Homo sapiens: one gene and its partners. The protein of the gene in region 1 interacts with the protein of each later gene in a pairwise test. Each region holds a gene or a part of one and is shown in the gene's direction. Other genes may lie near its edges.

Region 1 (6,811 bases):
GTCAAATCCTAGAAAACATAGCATGCCTACGCGTGATGTTAACATCATTCTCGAATAGTTGTTGGTTGAAGATTCATTTGATGAATCCGATTTTTCAGAAATAGACGAGTCTGATGATACAGACGATTCTGGTGTTAGTTCTCTGTAGAAATAACTCCAAGAACACTTTTAATAGTTTATTTTCACATTGAAAATCAGATTTGCTCCAGCCTCAAAGAGTATATTTATGTAAAATTAGGTAAGCGATATAGAAGCAAGCTGCACTTTTTTTCTAAATGGGAAGGTATTAAAAAAGAAAAGTCTCATTTTAGTAACATAGTCTTCCTTAAACTCTATGCCACTTGTAAGATTTCTGAAAACTGAAGACATAGAAGGGAACGGGCTTGATATGAACGACAGCTTTGCTGGTAAATAAACCCAACTGAACCTAAGATTATCTAAGGTAACCTCTTTTTCTAGTCTTTTATTGTGTGAACAGTTACCTCCTGCTGAGTTGTTGGCAGAATTTCCATATAATCTTGCTTATGACCATTTCTACATTATTTGTATCATCTTTTAGAAGTCTTACCCAGGTTGATATAGGTTACCGTTCTCTAGATCTGTGTCTCCAATTCTTCTTACATGGCATTAGGTATTTTAAGCTTGTTTTTTTTCAGACATCGTATAGTCAATTCTTGAATGTGTTGAGAGGTGCTATGTCATTGTAAGCTTTATTCTTCTTCTCTGAATGATTAGCTTGTTTAAATTTTACCTTAAATTCTTTTTTTTCTTTTTTTTTCTTTTGAGACTGAGTCTTGCTCTGTCGCCCAGGCTGGAGTGCAGTGGTGTGATCTCGGCTCACTGCAAGCTCCACCTCCTGGGTTCACGCCATTCCCCTGCCTCAGCCTCCTGAGTAGCTGGGACTACAGGTACCCGCCACCACGCCTGGCTAATTTTTTTTTTTTTTTTGTATTTTTAGTAGAGACGGGGTTTCACCATGTTAGCCAGGATGGTCTCAATCTCCTGACCTTGTGATCCACCCGCCTCGGCCTCCCAAAGTGCTGTGATTACAGGTGTGAGCCACCGCGCCCGGCCTTTACGTTGAATTCTTTAAATTCAGCTTGTGACTTTGCACTTCAGGATTCTGAGTGTTCTCTGTCTTCTTCCTGCATTGTTTTTCTTATACCATACAGGTTTTTCATTGGCCTTGACTTTTTGTTGTTAACTCATTCTTCTTTGGGTTTATTTTCATTTGTTTCTGCTGAATATTATTTGTTTCAAACTAAAAATAACATTCCACATTTTAATTGATGTGCGGACTCTTAATCTACTTAAAATGTGGGCTGAAGTTCCATGATTCCAGCTAGTCTGGAATAGGTCATTTAACTGGATGTTAATTCACCTACATTGTTCCCTAAGTGACATGTGGGTCCCATTCTGCTGACATATTTGTGGGTCCTGGTAACAACCATTTGGGTAGATTTGCTGATTCCTCTTTTCTCCTTAGTGGAAGAGAAAGCCAATACCCACCTCCTCTTGGGCATGTGCTTAGACGCCTGTGCTCGCTACCTTCTGTTCTCCAAGCAGCCGTCACAGGCACAAAGGATGTATGAAAAAGCTCTGCAGATTTCTGAAGAAATACAAGGAGAAAGACACCCACAGGTAAGGGAGGAAAACACAGAAGGGGGAATATAAAACAAAGGCTTCAAAATTGAAGGGTGTGAAATGTCACACTCATTGGTAACAGGATCAGCAGATGGTCCTAGATCCTCCTTGGTCCCCAGTCTACTCATTTTCTTATCACCAGCACCCTCACCCCAACTACTTGTTTCAGAAAGGATTTGAGACTAGTTATCAGTTACTAGGTCTGCCCAGAACTTTTTGCATGATCCATGGTTTGCACAACAGAGCAACCTTTCTACAGAGCAGGACTGGTCAGGCTTCAATGGACACAGCACAGTATTTCAGAGTGGGGTCTCTAGATACCCCTATTAGAAGCTTATGAGGAACGGTTTAATACACAAATATCCTTGCCTCCCTTGCCCCACAGTTAAAATGGCAAGAGGTGAGGGAAGGGCAAGGGACCACATTAAAAACACTTAAACCATTGGCATATTATAGAATTTAAGTATAACGTGTAAAGCTCTGTGTTAGAACATTAAACACATTGAATTGAAATCATCTCTTTGGGTCTCCCCTCCATCCGAGTAAGTTCTTAGATGTAAGGAGTGCATTGCTTTGTCTATGAATGCTTGCTACTGCCAATATAAGACATAACAATTTTAACTGAATGTGTCCCAAGGCTGGGGTACATGGGTAGGGTGAGTAATATGTTTTGGAAGAAAAGGGAGGTTGAGCTATGAATTATCTCCATGAAAGGGATTTATAACTTATTATGAAGAGTCCCTTAATGGAGTGAGGAATAATAAACAAGCAAGTACAGAATTCAGATCTCCAAGTACTAGAGTCAGGGGGCTTAAAGCATGGCATCAGTGGGGAAGTAGGTATGGAAGTCTACCTCTTCCATACTGAAATTCCATTTCAGTAGCCAAATTAAAAAAACTCCTACTGGGCATCTTCCTAAAATAGATGGTGTATTTCTTGTTTTTGATGAGCCTCAGGGTTATCAGCAGGAACAACATAATACAGTGGGGCTCCAGAGGCAATCAAACCATAGGAGGCTGGCTTCTCAAAGTTGCTCAGCCTTAAAGGAGATAATATGTGTAGCTTCTTGCTGTTGTTTTTCATTTGGTGCTTCTAACTGGGTAATTAGTTGGATTAATAAGCACTGTCTGTTACCTAATTTCCAGATTTGTATTATTTCCCAAAAGGTCGAACTAACATTGTCCACTGTACAATGTGATTATGATTAACAAATGCCCACAAATTTGTTAAAGAATGGTATCCCTCATCTTTTGTGGAATGCTAGGAAAGATGAAATCTTATGTATTCAGAGTTGGATGCACTCCACATTAAAGTTCTGTGAAGGCATGTTTTTAAAGAAAAAATTGTTTTTTCTTTTACATACAGACCATTGTGCTGATGAGTGACCTGGCTACTACCCTGGATGCACAGGGCCGCTTTGATGAGGCCTATATTTATATGCAAAGGGCATCAGATCTGGCAAGACAGATAAATCATCCTGAGCTACACATGGTACTCAGTAATCTAGCTGCAGTTTTGATGCACAGAGGTAGGTAGCAATGTAAACTTAACTGACTTGCTTTAAGGGAGGGATGTCACTGGATTGATAGATTTGTGAAGTGGTATGTAGGGAGGGCAAGGGCCAACGAATAAACATGTAAATTAAAAGACTGGTTGAATGGCAGAAAAAGGAGGTATTGATTAGGTTGAAGTACTATTGTGTTCAATTCACGTAACTTCTACAGACCTGCACTAGCCTGTCGAACCCCATCAAGCTGGAGAAAACCTTGCAATGATAGTACCTTACGTCAGTAGTGCTTTACAGATTTCTAAATGTGTTCAGTTACAATGTGTTTCTCACAGTGTGCTGGTGAAGCTTTATGACAGGAAGTATCATTTTGTCAGACATTTCTTAGTGTCAGCACACTATACCGATCATTTTCAGAAACCTGGGATGACAGGTGTATTACACATACCACCATTCATGAAATCTTGGGCTCATCAAAGTCCTCAGGATATACTGGAAAGGGCCGTTAGGAATCCCACAGCATTCAGTGGAGTTCCAGCCTGTCAGATGGGGATGAAATGAGGCAGCACCAGCTTGTCGCTTCATAAGCACACAGTAAATTAGCCCTATATCTGCATTCATGCTCTCTCTTCAGAATCACCTTGAAAACATACACTTTCTTCTTACTGTCCCTTCTCTCTGGGTTATTTTAGAACGATATACACAAGCAAAAGAGATCTACCAGGAAGCACTGAAGCAAGCAAAGCTGAAAAAAGATGAAATTTCTGTACAACACATCAGGGAAGAGTTGGCTGAGCTGTCAAAGAAAAGTAGACCTTTGACAAATTCTGTCAAGCTCTAAATCCATTTTTGTGTAGGGAGAATAATGTCTAGTAATGTGGAAGAATAGCTATCATTCCTGTCTCTGTGGCACCCGATCAATGGCTTAAATCTGTCGTTTTTGATATTCAGGTTTCCTCAATTTAGCCTTAGTGAAGGAGGGGTTGTACACACTGCCATTTTTGTATTTTAAAGGAAAAATGACTTTCATTCCCAACTGATTATGACCTTTCAGGATGTCGTCAAGTGATGCTTTCAGTTGTAACACGTGACTTGGTGCTGTCCCTGCTGGTCTAAGTAGAACTGTAGATTCATATGGGCTGGTGTTCCTGTGCGCTGTGGGTGTGGTGATTCAGCCTGGCATTTCTACCATAAGTTTTTGGTCTGCTGATTTGCTGCCCTGTCTTCTCTTACTTTACTTTATCAATACCTGGCAAACTGACCAGAATTACCTTCCTCATGGCAAAGGGGGATTATGGTGAATTGTTGTTCTTATAGTCTGTTTCATGAAGCACAAGTGGAATTTAATACATAAAAGAGAAAAATATCTTAGTTTGCTACCAGCATCCAGCATGAAGTTGTAAAGTGGGGATTAGGCACGTGACAGTATAGCACCCATTTGAATTTAAATAAAAGTGAACCATATTTATCTGGTTATATAAAACTAAAAATGGGGGTGTTTATATAAAACTAAAAACTAAGAATGATGTAACCTTTTGTCTGTGTTATCTGAACACTCTACTTCCTTTGCAGCCTTAGTCACACAACTGAGTCATCTCAAGTACTCTTTAAGGACACACAGCCCAGGCTGTTCTGAGTCAGAATAGGCCCCTACAGGTATATTTTAAAACTCTTCGTAATTCTAATGTGTACTGCTGGTATAGCTGAACTACTGACCTGGATCTTAGTCCTAGCCTTTTTGCTTTTGCAATTTCAGTATCTTCATCTCTAAACTAGGGAAACACTGGGATTCTTTCTTAGCTGTGGGGGAAGGTATTTGGTTAGATGACTTTGAATGAATAGACTGCTGTGCTGAAAGAGCTTTATCACACTGTCTCAAAGTATGTAAAGATACATAGGTGGATGCTCTTACTGCAGCAGTCATGAATACATTTTTAGCCATTTACCTAAGGAAAAAGACAGTTTTTCTAGGTACCATGAAGGAAGATTGACCCTGTTGGTATGCCTGTGGGGGTGGGATGTGAGTGGGACTGATAAACTGATACTTTTGGTTCGTATGTACATACTGGAAGAATCTTCATAATAAATGAGACTACACAACAATATTGTATGTATCCCAGTAATCTTTGCATTTCTCAAAAAAAAAAAAAAAAAAAAAAAAAAAACTTTCTGAAGAAAATAAAAACACCAGAAACCTTGAGGTCCAAATCCTCAGGGATTAGACTAAAACTAGAGTTTTGTATGTTGCAGATGTAAATTTCTTCCTATTTTCTGTCTAATCTCATATTATTTACCATGCAGCTAATGCCGTTTACCAAGTCTAGCTCAGAGAGATAAGATACAATATAAATCAGACTGTTTCAGTAGAAACCAGTATTAACGTATGGTGATTTCTTAAAAAAATTAATGTCAACCACTCACCTTTTGCATTGAGAATGTTTTTACCTTTTCACAACTGCAGGGGTTACTGAAAGGTTTTTCATTCCAAGTTTTATTTATTTATTAATTTTAAATCATCCACAGTGACTCAGCTCATGGTCTCGTTGTTGGAAACACTAGGAGTTTTCAGGACAGTCTCTTCATGTGGGTGTTTTCATTACAGTTCATTTACACTGTTGTAAAATAAGGTACTGAAGCAAAAGGAGGACTGATCTCCTTTACTGATTGGTCTAAATTCAAAAGTGAATTGGTTAAAATCGTGTCATTAAAATTTTTTAACTGTCCAATGGTCACTGGAGTTTTCTGGGCATAAATATTTTTAAAATAGAATCACTCAGTGTACCAAAATTAAAAGCATTATGAAATTTGCAGTCATAAACATGCAGTGGAAAACTGGCTGTCAGAATACTTTTATGAAGAGTATTAGGAAGACCTTAATTTAGTTCTGGGTGCTAAAAAAATCACGTGTAAGGATATAGTGTCAGAACACTGAAATCTAAGTCTACAAAGAATATCATGTTTTGGTTTGCAGTGAACCACAGTAAGTTGTCAGTGCTGCTCTGTGCTTACCACTTAAATCATGATAAGGTGAACCTCCATAGGTAAACCATGTGAGAATTCTGTCCTTTCATTTATTTTGAACCAAGAACTATTATTGGATTTTAACTCTCATTCTGAGATTTCTTCTCCAGGTGATGGTAAATAAAGTAATACGCACATGCATTATGATGAGGATGGAGGGAGTGGTTCACAGCACCTCACCTTCGGGTCCTCAGGTAGAACTGCAAGAGTAAGAAGTTAGGCTCTGATCTGACATGTTCTCAGAAACTATACGGTTGACCTTCAAATAATGCAGGAGTTAGGGGCATAGACCCCCTAAGTAGTCAAAAATCCACATCTAACTTTGACTCCTCCAAAACTTAACTACTCATGGCCTACTGCTGACCAGAAGTCTTACGGATAACATAGTCGATTGACACATATTTTGTATATGTATTATATACTGTATTCTTACAATAAAGTAAGCTAGAGAAGAGAAAATGTTTGTTAAGATTATAAGGAAGAGAAAATATATTTACTATTCATTAAGTGGAAGTGGATCATCATGAAGGTCTTCATCCTTGTCATCTTCATGTTGAATAGGCTGAGGATGAGAAGGGGTTGGTCTTGCTATCTTGGGTGGCAGAGGTGGAAGAAAATCCATGTATAAGTGGACCCACA
Region 2 (7,584 bases), on another chromosome or scaffold:
GGATAATTTTTGTATTTTTAGTAGAGATGGGGTTTCACTCCTTTCTTTTTTTTTTTTTGAGACGGAGTCTCGCCCTATCACCAGGCTGGAGTGCAGTGGTGCAATCTCGGCTGACTGCAACCTCCATCCCCCAGGTTCAAGTGATTCTCCTGCCTCAGCCTCCCAAGTAGCTGGAACTACAGGCACCTGCCACCACGCCTGGCTAATTTTTTGTATTTTTAGTAGAGACGGGGTTTCACCATGTTGGCCAGGATGGTCTCCATCTCTTGACCTTGTGATCCACCCACCTCGGCCTCCCAAGGTGCTGGGATTACCGATGTGAGCCACCGCGCCCAACCCTTTTTTTTTTTTTTTTTTTTGAGATGGAGTCTCACTCTGTTTCCCAGGCTGGAATGCAACGGCACGATCTCGGCTCACTGCAACCTCCACCTCCCGGGTTCAAGTAATTCTCTTGCCTCAGCCTCCCAAGTAGCTGGGACTACAGGCACCTGCCACCACGCCTGGCTAATTTTTTGTATTTTTAGTAGAGACAGGGTTTCACCATGTTGGCCAGGATGGTCTTGAACTCCTGACCTCAGGTGATCTGCCCACCTTGGCCTCCCAAAGTGCTGGGATTACAGGCGTGAACCATCTTGCCTGGCCGAGACTTTGTGGCTTAAAAAAAAAAAATTACAGAAGGTGGCCCTGGGGCCTAAGGTCATGATTCCGGGGCGATGTGTGTGTACCAGGCAGCCCGTCTCACTGCATTTGCATGTTTAGAACAAGCCAGATACTACTCGAGAGGAGGCAGATGATTTGTGAAATGTTTCTGTATTTTCAAACCTTCTTGCCTGTAGTTTTGAGTCTCAGTGCAACAATTATGCTTCACCCCATCTCAGCAGTGTCCTGACTCTGTTGTCCAGGAGGAGGAGACAGTGGTGGTGGAGGGCAGCTCTCCTCTTCCGGGCCTTCCGACAACCGATCTGGGATCCACAGACAGCCCTGCCTCCTCGGGGCTGCAGGAGGAGGGACCAACACGAATGCAGGCCATGGCTGCCGGGGACGCTGGTCAGGATCAGCAGGAAAACAGTCAGCCAGGGACATGGCCGGGAACAGTCGCCACAAGCGGCTATAACGGATTAACACATTTTCTTTTGTTTTTGATAAACAAGTTTACTTGTAAATTTAGTCAGCATACATAACTAACCAAAACTTCAATATATCTTGAGACCCCCTTGGGGGGCTGTCTCCATAAAAGTGACTTTCCCAGGAGAGTGACTGGATGTGATTGGCCAACACCGTCTTAGCCCGCAGGGGTTCCTGGTGCCGAAGCCTCACGTCCCTCCCCACAGCGAGTTTTCAGAATCCAAAGGCCGTAGGAGAAAGAAGGCTGGCGGTGTTTCCTCTTAGAGGGGAGAAACTCAGCCTGGGTAGGAGACCCAGCCCCACGCAGGGAAAACTGTGCTAACGCTTCCGATGTGCGTGGCAGGTGCGGCGGCGGCGAATACGGTTTGTCCTCGAGCCTAACCCTGTCTGTGTTGGTGTCAGCAGTGGCCCCCCTACCACACACACAGGGTCCCTGGCGTCCCAAGACCACTCCTGGCAGCCCCGCCACTGGCTGCGCCTGGAAGCCGCGTCCTCAGGCCTCGCCTGGCATTTGCTGTCACAGAGGTTGCTTCCTTGGGTCCGTCCGTCCTCGCCCCTCCAGCCTGGGCGCCCCCCGACCCCTGTCTCATTCCCTCCACCACATGCAGCACAGTCCAGGAGGCTGGGGTCCAAGAGGGCCATGGCTGGCACCCGGCTTAGTGCTGAGTCCCCAGTGCCCAGCAAGCCTGGCACCCAGGAGGTGGTCAGCAAACGCTTCTGAACGACAGGAAGTGGGACTCTTCAGCCATCGATGATCCGCTGTGCGGCCACAGGTCCGTGTCTCTGTGTGTGTCTTTCCATGTGTGTCTGTGTGTGTCTCTGTTTCTGTGTGTGGACCTGTGTCTGTGTGTTTGTGTTTCCGTGTATCTTCTCTGTGTGTCCGTGTGTCTTCATGTGCATGCATGCGTGTCTCCATGTGTGTCGTGTGTGCGCATGTCTGTGTTCGTGTTTCCATGTATCTGTGTCTCCGTGTCTTCATGTGCATGCATGTGTATGTGTCTGTGTCTTCGCGTGTGTGCATGTGTCTGTGTTTCCGTGTATCTCTGTGTGTCTCCGTGTCTTCATGTGCATGCGTGTCTGTGTCTCCATGTGTCTTCGTGTGCATGCGTGTGTATCTCTGTGTGTCTCCATGTGTGTCTTTGTGTGTGTGTGCATGTGTCTGTGCACACTCATGGGAGTGAATATGGGCTTGGCTGTGCTGCTTGTGGCTCTGAGTGCCTGTGGTTTTTCTTCCCAATGAGACGGGCTGCCTGGAATGTCCGAGTCACCAGGAATGGCAGCCAAGATCAGATCCTCAGTGCGGGCCGTGGGGCCAGCTGACCCCTCTTGCTCCACCCCAACCCCCAGAGGTGGGGCTAGGAGGACGGTCCAGGGCGCTGGTTTGGCTGGGGGCTTAGCCAGAGCACAGTGATGCCAGTGGCTTTGTCCTGGTTTGTCCTCTTCCCAGAGGGAGAAAAATGCCAGGCCAGGCTGGGAATTAAGTCACACACCCACAGCTCTGCAGACCACCCCCCAGCGAGCAGAGGCTCCACAGTCCCAGCCCAGGAAGGTGCAGAAGAGGCACAGGTCACTGGCCCTGGGAGGAGCAGGTGACCTGGTCACTACCAGGCCTGCTCTTCTCTGTGGCTGTTTCCCACTGAGGGCCGGACAGGGAGGGTCAGGGAAGGGGCCTGATGGCCTCATCAGCCTTTTGTTCCTTGCCCAGGGCCCCATGGGGGTCAGCTGCCCCCAGGTGGCCCTCTCAGAGGTCAGGGCCCTCTCAGACGACAGCCTCTGGCCTGCATCTCCGCTGGCTGGGTCCCCGAAAGTGTGGCTGGAGGCCACTGCCCGGAGAGGGACGGCCCTGCAGAGTGAGGCGAGCCCTGGCCTGAGGCTGTCGTGCGGACCAGGCGCCCCTCTCAGCCCTGCACCCAGAGCCGGGCCCTCCCAGACCCGAGGGCCAACCCTGTCCCCCCACCAAACTGCTGTCCGTCCTCCCTCCATGGGGAGAGAGGGAACAGGGAGAGTGACGGAAGGAGACAGAGACTGCAGAGGCCAAGGCCCCAGAGTGTGCGACGGAGACAGACATGGGCGGGCGGGCAGCTGCCAGCACTAATACAAACCAGTTGGAAAAACAGGAGGAGAGGCCAGCAGAGGCCTCGAGGCCAGCCAGGTGGGGCTTGTTTTTCCAGAATGAAAGGCCCAGGGAGGGAGTGGGGGTGGCGGGATGTGTTCAGCCCTGAAGCCAGTTTGGAAAGGTCGCCGCCCGGGCCAGGACCCTGCTGAGGAAATGGGTCTGACCGGGCTGGGGTGGGGTGGGGTCTTCTGTCCTTACGCCGGTCCGTGTCCTGCCCGTTCCTCTCACTGGAGCAGCCGCAGGTTCCCCTCCCCTCGCCCTGAGACCACCACTCTGATCTGCACTGGGCTTCCCACTGTCTGAGGACTTGGGCACCAGAGCAGGGTTCAGGGGTGAGCCCCCCACCCAGCTGGGGCCCTCGGGGCCTGTAAGGAGAGCTCACTCCAAGTGGGCGGGCGGAACTATGCACTGAGGGTTTCTAGTGGTTGTGGTTGTTCAGATTGTTTTTTCTTGAGGTTTGCTTGATTAGAAGGAGTTGGGTTTGCTACACAGTGCAGGCTGTTATTTCGCATTTGTTTATGTGACTTTGTAAGTTTTCCCACAGTTTCAAATTTGTGCCTTCCATGGCAGGGGTCCCACTCTCCCCTTTCTCCAGGAGGCTTGTAATCCAGCACCTGGTTTCAGGGACACCAGGCTGCACCCTAAAGGCGGGCAGCCCCAGGGGACGGGGCCAGCAGGGAGAGGTCTGCTCACCCCAGCACCCCCAGGCCTCCCAGTGCTCAGGGTCCCCTGTCCCTGGCTGACTCTCCAGGTTGTAAAGGGGACTAGTGACTGGCAGCGTCCATCATCCTGGCCCAAGGGAGCCCACCGTGGCCCCCAGAGGAGACGGGTACCAAGGTCATGCAGGGCCAAGGGTTGGAGCTGGAAGGGCCATCTGGTCTGAAGGAGAGCACCAGCGTGCACCGTGGGTGGGGGCGGTCTCAGCGCTGGGAGGCCTTTCTGGGGCCTGGAGCAGACTGAGGGGAGGACCCTGCCCTGAGGTGGCTCACGTGGGGGGAGGCCAGAGGTGGGGCGGAGGGGCCACTCACCCAACAGTCCCAACCCTTCACCACAGGCCCGGGAGGCTCCTAGACGTGAGACACGATCACGTGGTATCAGGGGCCCATGTCCTCGGACCTTCTTGTCCCTCCAAGGGTGCGGTCACCACCCCTCCCCAGGCCTGACCGGTGAGGGGCTGGGCCTCTGCTCCCACACTGCCCCTCCCCAGCAGGCCAGCAACGATGGGGGAGGCCAAGGGGCCCGGCAGGAGCCAGAGGGGGCGGTCCCCAGACCGTAGACAGGCCCAGGCCTCCGTGATGTCACCGCGGGTGCTAAGGAGGGGGAGGGGGTAGGGCTGTTTTTCTGGAGAGAGACTTAGAGCCGAGTGGGACAAAGCCTGGGGCTGGGCGGGGGCCATGGCGCTGCCATCCCGAATCCTGCTTTGGAAACTTGTGCTTCTGCAGAGTGAGTGTGGGGCCCTGGGAGGCGGGTGGGGGGTGGCACGTGGGGCTGTGCGAGTCCGTTTCGGACAAAACCGCCCATCTGAGCTTGGGCCAGGAGGAGTGGGAAGGTCCCACCAGGGAAGAGGACGGGTCTGGGGGCGCTCGGGAGAGCCGCTTGCCAGAGGCTGTGACGTCTTCAGTTAGACTTTGGCCAGCCTCCCCTCCTAGGGAGTTGAAGCCCAGAGGGCCAAGAAGGGCTGGGGGCCCAGGCACGGCGGCGTCTCCCTCGGGGCCCCTCCTGCAGCCCCTCTTGCTGGGGCTCTGTTTAGGGAGTGGGTCAGTGATTGAAGGGGACCTGAGAACTGTGGGGTCTGTTCCAGCCCCCGCTCCCAGGCCTGGGCTGGCTGCTGACCGGGCACATTCCTCTGGGAAGCTCCCAGGCTCTCGGCCACATCTCTGGGGCAGTTTTCACATAGGATCTATGTGAGGGAGAGCAGCCCCCAGTGATCTAGAGACACAGGATAGAAACAGCTTTTATCACCCACGGGCCCTGGGGTGCACAGACTGCTGGGAGGCCAGGGAAAGTGGAGAGAGACAGGGACCCCCAGGCCAACCCTTTATTGGGATCAGGGCGTTCTGCATACAGGTTTCCCTCAGGGAATTTTTTTGGAGGCAGTTTCTCTCTCGCCAAGGAGGCTGCAGTGCAGTGGCGTGATCTCGGCTCACTGCAACCTCCACCTCCCGGGTTCAAGTCATTTTCTTGCCTCGGCCTCCCAAGTAGCTGGGACTATAGGCGCCCACTACCACCCCGTCCGGCTAATTTTTTGTATTTTTAGTACAGATGGGGTTTTTCATATTGGCCAGGCTGGTCTTGAATTCCTGACCTCAGGTGATCCACCTGCCTTGGCCTCCCAAAGTGCTGGGATTACAGGCGTGAGCCACCATGCCTGGTGGGGGAGTTTTAACTGGTGGGTTTAAGGCAAGCGGCACGAGCCCCGTGGGGCCACGCTGACTGTGGGGGGACTCCGTGGTGCAGCTGCACAGTCCATGTGGGGCGTGGGGTCTGTGGGGACACAGGGGGTGGTCACCAGGGGACAGTGCGTAGGGCGGGCGTCTGGGTGGATCAGCTCGAGGACGGGGGATGTGAATTGGAAACTGTCCCGGGTGGCAGCCCCGCTTCCGGTCAGAGAAAGTCCAGCCTAGATTCAGAGTGGATGCCGAGGCGGCCTACGACAATGAGAGTCCCTCAAGCAGCAACGCGGGCCTGTGGGGCGGCAGCCGGGGTCACGACCCACATTCAGCCTTCAGGCCTCTGCCCTGCGGAAGCACCTCAGGGGCTGCGCTGAGCCTTAGGTGTGGTGTGGGGTCCCCAGCGTCTGAGGGTCCAAGGACCCTCGGGGGCTGGGGCACAGCCCTGGAGGGAGCGTGGGGGAACCCACAGATCCAGCCTCCTTGGTGCTCTGGGTGACTTGGGTGCAGCCAGGTGGAGTGGCCCCGGTGACAAGCACACACCCCAGAACCGGCTGGCTTGGAGCCTGGCCCTGGCCCACGCCCATGCCCTGGCTTCCCCACTCAAGGGCAGGTGCCATCCAAAGCCCAGCACGGTGGCAGGGAGGGCTATGTAGGTCTGTGTGAGAGGCGTCCTCCCTGCACTGAAGTGGGTGTCACAGCATCCACTTTGGGACTACAGGAGGGACTCTGGGGGCCAAGTGGGGGGTCTCGGGGCTGGGTGGGGCTGTGGGTGGCCTCTCCAGCTCACTCCTCTCCTTCCAGGCTCTGCTGTTCTCCTGCACTCAGGTTAGTGACCCCAGCCCCAGCTGCCCACCCCCACTCCCCCTCAGCCCCTCCTATCTTGCCAGGCCCAGCCCCCGGGGGTCCTCAGGCCCTGCCCCTCCCCCACTGATTCCCCCTTGCTCATCAGGACCCTTGGGCACCTCCCCTTGCCAATAACTCCCCCTCCCCCAATGACTCCTCTTCCCCTACCAGGGCCCTTGGGGGCCTGGCCCTCCCCCACAGACTCCCGCACACCCACCAGGGCCCTCGGGGGCCCACCCCTCCCCCACAGATGCCCCCACTGACTCCCCTTCCCCAACCAGGGCCTTCGGGGTCTGCCCCTCCCCTACTGAGTCCCCTTCCCCACCAGGGCCCTCGGGGCCCACCACTCCCCCATGGACTCCCCATCCCCCACTAGGGTCCTTGGGCCCCATGTCTCCCCGACTGACTTGCCCTCCCCCATGGACTCCCCCTCCCCTGCCAGGGCCCTCGGGGGTCCACCACTCCCCCAATGATTCCCCTTCCCCCACATGGGCCCTAGGGGGCATGCCCCTCCCCCATGGAATCTCCCCCACCACGAGGGGCCTCAGGGGCCCACACCCCCCCAAAGATGCCCCCAACCCCGCCAGAGTCCTTGGGGCACACCCCTCCCCCAGTTACTCCTCCTCCTCCACCAGGGTCCTCAGAGCCCGCCCCTCCCCCACTGATTCACCCTCCCCCATCAGGACCATCAGGGTCCGCCCCTCCCCCAGTGACTCCCCCTCCCCTATCCAGGCCCTCGGGGGTCTGCCCCACCCCACGGACTTCCCCTCCACCACCAGGGCCCTCTGGTCCTGCCCGTCCCTTACAGACATCCCTCCCCCACCAGGGCCCTGCCCCTCCCCCACTGACTCCCCCAACCAGGGCCCTAGGGGGCCCACCCCTTCCCCCACCGACTCCCCTCCCCCACCAGGGTCCTCGGTACCCGCCGCTGCTGGCAGCTCCGTGGTGTCCGAGTCCGCGGTGAGCTGGGAGGCGGGCGCCCGGGCGGTGCTGCGCTGCCAGAGCCCGCGCATGGTGTGGACCCAGGACCGGCTGCACGACCGCCAGCGCGTGCTCCACTGGGACCTGCGCGGCCCCGGGGGTGGCCCCGCGCGGCGCCTGCTGGAC
Region 3 (7,434 bases), on another chromosome or scaffold:
GCAGGAGAATCGCTTAAATCCGGGAGGCGGAGGTTGTAGTGAGCGGAGGTCGCGCCACTGCACTCCAGCCTGGGCGACAGAGCGAGACTTCGTCTCAAAAAAAAAAAAAAAAAAAAAAATTTCTGTGTAGCCAAATTTTATCTTTTTCAATAAACAATACATTGACCACTTTTCTGGTTTTCACAGTGGCCATTTACACTGTTCTGATTGAAAAGTGTATGTAGATTCCTAAATGGAATGTATCTTAAATCCCTAGCCTTCTCAGGCTAGAGGGGGATTTTACGTTTTCTATGAGCTGTTGATAATCGATACATGCATGACAGCATAGCTGACACAATGGACACACAAAGATAAACACAGCTCTCTGTTCTAAATTGTTCTTTAAAGTAGTGCTTTTCTTTCTCAATTTGAAAGTGCTTTTTAGCTCTACAGCAACTACTAAGTGATAAAAGGATAAAGAAAACCTTTAATCCATATTAATTCGATAAAAAAGTCACTATCATGTGAGATATTCCACTTAAAAGGCAAAACACTTAAAATACGGCCTTTCCTCCCATATAAAATTTAAACACAAAGAAATGTTTTAACACTGAATGTAATTTAAACCAGGCAATTCAGTTTGGAGGCTTGATACTCTCTATGTAGTTTCTACTGATGTGAGGAATTTTAAAAAGATGATTTATGTTAATTCTTTATCAGAACAGAGGGGGGACTGTACATTTTCTATGAGCTGTTGATAACTGATGCATGTAGTAAAATACCATATGTGTTCTAAACTCTCCATCTTTTTGTTTAGTCCAATCAAGGACTATATAGTTACTTAAATGGTTTGGTTTGTATGAGTATAAGAAATACTTTAAATTAAAAGTAGTCAGTGATCAAAGTTCATAACTGTAATAAATAACAGCTGGCCATACCTTGTAACCCTCCCATTCCAAAGAGGTTTAGACCTGTATCTTTCACAGGCAAGTCTCCTGCAGTCTCATCAGTTGGACCAGACATGGCCTAGCTGTGGAAAAAAGAAAATTCAAATAAACTCTTTCCAAATTATTACATTAACTATGCAATGGAATGAACCAAATAAAACGAAAAAGGGACTAGAACTTTAATGGGCATCTTATTGTCCACATGTGCTGCTTGGAGAAGATGAAAGCTTCTATTCTAATAGTACTACTACATTCAGTCATGGAGACAGTGTTCCTTTCAACAGTGTATTTCCTATAGTTTGCTTAGGAAATGAAGTAAGATTATCATTTAAGAAATACCTCCTCTCCATCCCTTTCCTCTCCCCAGCCTCCAAAAGAAAGCAGATATCTTGGAAAAAACTCAGGTCAGGAACTTGATTCAAATGGTTGCTCTATCATTAACAAACTAGTCAAGCCACCTAAACTCTCTGAGTTTCAGTCTCTCAGTTTTAAAAATGGAGAAAATAATACCTATCTCAGAGAGTTATTCTAAGGGTAAATGGGATGAGTAAATTAAAAGCACTGATCACATGTGCCTGGGATGTCAATATTACTCAAATATTGTCTGCTTGATGTACAAATGAGTGGGCAGTTCTGTGCATTTTGTGAGTTTTGTGAAAGAGGTTTCGTTGCATAAATTTACCAACTGGGTTTGTGTTTTTTTGTGTGTGTGTCTTGCCTTTGTTGCCATGAGGCCTAGGTCTCACCCAGGGTTCAACTACTTCAACATATAGGCTCTCTAGCTAATTCTAGTATTTTTGTAGTTTCTATTCTTTACAGAAATACACCATAGTAACTCTATTTTGAGTATGGATGTGAGTGGTCCACACAATATCTAGTATGCAAAAATAAAGGATTTTATATTTTCATTTCAATCTACCTAGTAAGCTACATGCAAACTGTGAATGAAGATACTCTAAAGGGCAGAGTTCTTAAGCTCTAGGATATTGGTTCTAGAATGTAAAGACCAAGACAGTAGCAAGCTTCATTGTCTTGTTCAGCTCTGTATTCTTGGAGGCTAGCATAGAGCGTGGTGCATTCTGAGAGCAGGCATTCATTAAATAGTTGTTGAGTGAGTGAATGGAGTCCATGGGGTTTCAGGGTCTGTGAACCCAGAGATGGTTTACCAAATTTTGTATGTATATGTATATATGCAATATCTTTTAAAGAGGGTTCATAACTTTTATTACAACTCGCAAATGGTGGAGAACCATTGCATTTTGCTTTTACAGAAACAGCTAACAGACAAATCCTTGGGAGATCATCTACTTCTTTTGGAAGTACTCCTATAGAAAAGGTCAATTTTTAGGATCCTGTTGACACATAGGCCCGTGTATGAAAATGATTAGTTTTCCATGACAGAGTTAAGGTCACTTTAAAAATAATAATGATGATGATGATGATGATGGTGTTAACATTCATTGAACGCTTACTATGTGCCAGGTACTGTTCTAAGTGTTCTGTTATAGGAATGAAGTGTCTCACCATATCCTTGTGAGGCTGTTACTCAAATGATTCCTGCTTTACAAATGAGGAAGCTGAGACACAGATTAGTTAACTCACTTAAGGTGGTAGTTGAAAGTATTAATAGTTGTGTCTGGTGATATTTTTGGTTGTCACAACAAGGAAGCGGGATGCTACTGGCATCTAGTGAGTAGAGGCCATGGATGATGCTAAATATCTTACAGTGCTTAGGAGACATAATAATGAATTATCCAGCCCAAAATGTTAATAATAGTGTAGAAGCTGAAAAACCCTGCACAATGCTGCAATGCCTCTCCAACACCATCTTATGTTATCCTTCTTTGCTCACTATGCTTCACTTACATTATTCTTTACTTTCCTCGAACCCCCCATACCCTTGTCTTGCTCAAGGCCTTTGTATTAGCTGGTTCCTTAATCTTTGGAGCTCAGTTCACTTCCTCAGACAGGTTTTCCCTGACCATCCTATGTTAGAGTAGTCTTCCTTACATTTCTTCACTGTTTATTTCTTTTCTTTTCTTTTTTTTTTTTTTGAGACAGGGTCTTGCTATGTTGCCCGGGCTGGCCTTGAATTCATGGGTTCAAGTGATCCTCCCACCTCAGCCTCCCGAGTAGCTGGAACTACATGTGCGTGCCACCAAGCATGGCTTGTATCTCTTATAGCAACTGCCTCTATCTGAAGTTATCAGATAAAATTATTGTTTGTCTCCACTAAAAAAGGATAAACATCTTGAGACGGGTATTAGTCTTGTTCACAACTGTTCAGGAACAGTGCCTGGTACAGGGTGGGAACCAACATTAATATTTATTGAATGATTGGCTGTGCGTGGTGGCTCACACCTGTAATCCCAGCACTTTGCGAGGCCGAGACGGGCGGCTGACTTCAGGCCAGGAGTTCGAGACCAGCCTGGCCAACATGATGAAACCCTGTCTCTACTAAAAATACAAAAATTAGCTGGGTGTGGTGGCACACGCCTGTAATCCCAGCTACTCGGGAGGCTGAGGCAGAAGAATCGCTTGAACCTGGGAGGAGGAGTTTGCAGTAAGCTGAGGTCTTACCACTGCACTCCAGCCTGGGCAACGGAGCAAGAACCTGTCACACACACAAAAAAAAGAATAAAGAAAAAATATTTATTGAATGAATAAATGAATATCAGGTACTGAGATTAAAATGGCAAGCAAAACCCCCGCCTTTATGAAGCTAGCAAGTTATGGAGGTAATCACATGATAAACAAATAATATATAATTAAGCAAACAATAGACCACTCAGGAGGTTTAGGGTCTACCAACCAACTCCTAATCCAGGGCAAATGAGCAAACTGTGTTAGGGACCTACAACTTGCAGGATCTGGATAGAGATGGCAATTAGCAGCATCAACTCTCACCTTCATGGCTGGGATATAACATTTCAAATTGGTCCTGGACGTGGGGATAAAGGGCGGCCTGTGATTCAGGCCTGAGGATGTGGAGGTGTCTTGGGCTGGGCTGCTTTCACGCCAGCAGAACTCCAGGGCCAACTCCAGGGCCTTCTCCAGGCGGCAGAGCGGACCCTAGGACCCCGGCCCGCGCTGCAGTGGGGAGGGTCAGCAACCTCCACCCACCCTCATCCTCCCCCATCCTCCCGGGTACTCACCGTGCCACTGGCCCTGCAGCTAGCTACCGTTGCTATAGCGCCGACAGCGTGGCGGGCGGCTGGCCGAGAGGAGCACGGGAGAAACATGGCAGGCTCCCGTAGCCTCCTGGGAAATGTAGTTCTCCTTGGACTCTAGCCTGTTTGCTCGCGGGGTAGCGGACTACGCTCTTCCAGCTGTCGGACCTGGGAAATTCTCCTGTGCTAAATCCCGTGGCGCTCGCGGGTGTCGCCGCGGTGCATCCTGGGAGTTGTAGTTTTTTCTACTCAGAGGGAGAATAGCTCCAGACGGGAGCAGGACGCTGAGAGAACTACATGCAGGAGGCGGGGTCCAGGGCGAGGGATCTACGCAGCTTGCGGTGGCGAAGGCGGCTTTAGTGGCAGCATGAAGCGCACCCCGACTGCCGAGGAACGAGAGCGCGAAGCTAAGGTATGTCGGGCTCCCGGGGCCTGGAGATCTTCGTGCGCTGTGAGCAAGGATCAGGGAACCGGAAGGGCTTGGTTTGATGGCGAGCGGATGCGCGGTGTTAAACTAAGGGATGACAGGGCCTTGTCAGCAAGGGACCTGGAGATATTAGAGGGGATGTTACAAATTCGTGCTCTTCAGGATGCAGGCCGAGTCTTGTTGGATCGGCTCAAAAATGAGAAGCAAGATACCCATTTCCTTGTCCTTCTTCTGCATCTATTCCTTGGTTAAATTTGTCGCCATCCCTGTGCCTCAGTTTACCGGATTCTCAGATGACTGTGATCATACCAGCTGTGCTTTCTCATAATGGTCTCTGAGGACTGAGATCGGCTTAGATGAAATATCTGTGCAGTCAGCTGTGTTTCTTTGGAACAATTGTCTCCGTGACCGGCTGATAACAGTTTGTGTCTTTTAGCGCTGTGGATATGAATCTTTAACTACATTGCTCCTCTCTACCTTTGATGTTCAGCTTCTGGTAGTTGCCATTCCATGGGATGACCATAATAATGGCAACAGAGATTTTAAAAAGCATTTATTGTGGGTCAGGCACTGTATTAAGTGCATAATATTTAAATTATTTCATATCATTGTCACAGCAGATTGCAAGATAGATATTATACAGATGGAGTATAAATAACAGCCCAGCTTCACAGATGAAGAACTGAGGCTCAGAAGCATTGAGTGTTTTCCTTTCTCTCATTCCCAAACTCAGATCCTGTTGATTTGTCTACGTATATTGGGAATATGCCCACTTTTTTTTTTTTTCATCTCCACTACCTTGGACCAAGCTACCATTATCTTTTTAATAGACTGTTGGAATAGCCTATTGATTGGCCTACACTCACTCTACACCCTAACTTAACTCTTCTTCCACCTTCTCTCCCTTCCCTCAACTACCATTCTCTTCTGCACACCATAGAGTAAGATCTTCGTGAAATGCAAATATAATTATGTCCCTTTCCTTTCTCCTTACTCTGCCAACCACCTGTTTAAAAATATTCCATGGCTTTCTGTTGCTCTTAGGATAAAGGCAAAACTTCACATTGCCTACAAGATCCTGCATGATCTGGACCCTACCTGCTTTCACAACCCCATTGGATATGACACTCTGCTCTCTGCCTACCAGTCACTTTGGCCTTCTTAAAAGTCACTCTTCACTATACTTTATCGGGCTTCAGGGCCTTTGCACATGTCATTTGCTGCCTACTCTATGTTAGGCAAATATTGGCAGTGAATAACAGTGTTAAATAACGTAGACACAGTTCTTGCTTTCATAGAATTTCATCTTACACGTGAGTCTGTTTAGGGCAATACACCTAAGGATTTAAAATATAAAATCTGCTCTATATTGACCTGAGTTATTGCAGTATTTCGTAAGGGACCAGAAGTTTTCATGCTTGAGTCTGCATATGATGTGGATAATATATTAAAGATAAGCACAAAGAGGGCGACCCTTCTGCTTTAGTCTACACAGTGCAAAGAAACAAATGTCACCTCATGGTGTTGTGCATGATGTCTTTCTCATCTTTCAGGTTTATTTTTAAAGTATTTCATTTATTCTGTGAAGATTTGTTGAGCACCTATTATTTGCCATAAGTTGGGATTATAATTTTGGCTGAAATAGAATCACTGCACCAAAGAAGCTCTTACTCTATTGAAACCATAACCATTGCCTGTGAGGGAGTTACTAGTGTCATCCATATTTTAGAGATTTAGAAACTGAGACTTGTAGGTAAATCGTGACTTGCCCAAGGCCACTTGGTTGCTAGGTGAAACTAGTGCTCTGAGCCAGGTCTTCTGACTCCAAATTCAAGGCTTTTCCCATTTTCTGCTTGTGAAACATGTTGAATTAGTAGAGCAAATTGTCTTCCTTTTTTCTTTAAAAAATTGGCTGTTCATTTAAAATTTGTTTGCTTAATATTATTTGTTAGAACAAAGTATAAGTAGTTGTTTTAAATCTTAAATGTAAAGTGTCCAATGGCTCATGAATTATCTTCTCTTTTTCTAATCAATTTTATTGAGGTATAATTTACATACAGTCATTTGCAACCATTTTTGTGTACAATTTGATGCCTTTTGACAAATGTATATACCTGCAAAACCACCACAGTTGGCATAGCGAACATTTCTCTCCTAAGTTCCCTCTCGTTAATTTGTGGTTAGTCTGTCCCTCCACCTTGGCCCCCAAACAACCACTGATATGTTTTTTGTCTCTGTAGATGCATCTGTATTTTCTAGATTTCATATAAATGGAAGCATACAGTGTATACTTTTGGGTCTTTTTTTCATTCAGCGTAATGATTTTTTTTTCAAAATAGAGATGGTGTCTTGCTGTGTTGCCCAAGTTGGTCTGGAACTCCTGGGCTGAAGCCGTCCTCCTGCCTCTGCTACCCAAAGTACTGGGATTATAGGCGTGAGCCACTGTGCCTGGCCAGCATAATGGTTTTTGAGATTAATCCATGTTGTTGTATGTATCCATAATTTGTTCCTTTTTATCGCAAATTAGTGGCCCACTGTATGGAGATACCACATGTTGTTTATTCATTCACTTGTTGCTGGACATTAGGATTGTTTCTGGTTTTGGACTCTTATGAAAAAAGCTGTTTTTACCATTCATGTATGAGTCTTTCCATTTTCATTTCTGTCAAAAAAAGCTGCTATGACCATTCACCTAAGAGTCTTTACATTTTTATTTCTGTCGGGTAATGCCCAGGAGTAGAATTGCTTAGTTATAGGGGAGTTCTTTGTTTAACCTTATGAAGAAATTACCAGTTTTCCGAAGTGATTTGACCATTTGTTTTAGTTTCTTATGGCTGCTGCAACAAGTTACCACAAACTTGGTGGCTTAAAACAACAGAAATTTATTATCTTACAGTTCTGGAGATGAGGC

The links. Proteins that work in one complex are often made in the same cells at the same time.
Region 2: the proteins of TTC19 (region 1) and MXRA8 interact in binary tests that used the Homo sapiens proteins (3 or more experiments, as listed by UniProt).
Region 3: the proteins of TTC19 (region 1) and FTO interact in binary tests that used the Homo sapiens proteins (3 or more experiments, as listed by UniProt).

What each region holds. Positions count from the first base shown.
Region 1 is NC_000017.11:16,023,531-16,030,341, forward strand, and holds the end of TTC19 (tetratricopeptide repeat protein 19, mitochondrial isoform 1 precursor), read left to right. Parts: intron 1-1,486; coding exon 1,487-1,641; intron 1,642-3,009; coding exon 3,010-3,172; intron 3,173-3,843; coding exon 3,844-3,992; 3' UTR 3,993-5,874; downstream 5,875-6,811. UniProt on the Homo sapiens protein: Required for the preservation of the structural and functional integrity of mitochondrial respiratory complex III by allowing the physiological turnover of the Rieske protein UQCRFS1.
Region 2 is NC_000001.11:1,355,556-1,363,139, reverse strand, and holds the start of MXRA8 (matrix remodeling-associated protein 8 isoform 2 precursor), read left to right. Parts: upstream 1-4,584; 5' UTR 4,585-4,635; coding exon 4,636-4,684; intron 4,685-6,435; coding exon 6,436-6,459; intron 6,460-7,387; coding exon 7,388-7,584.
Region 3 is NC_000016.10:53,699,722-53,707,155, forward strand, and holds the start of FTO (alpha-ketoglutarate-dependent dioxygenase FTO), read left to right. Parts: upstream 1-4,434; 5' UTR 4,435-4,463; coding exon 4,464-4,508; intron 4,509-7,434. Other genes in the region: RPGRIP1L (protein fantom), read right to left, coding at 918-1,002.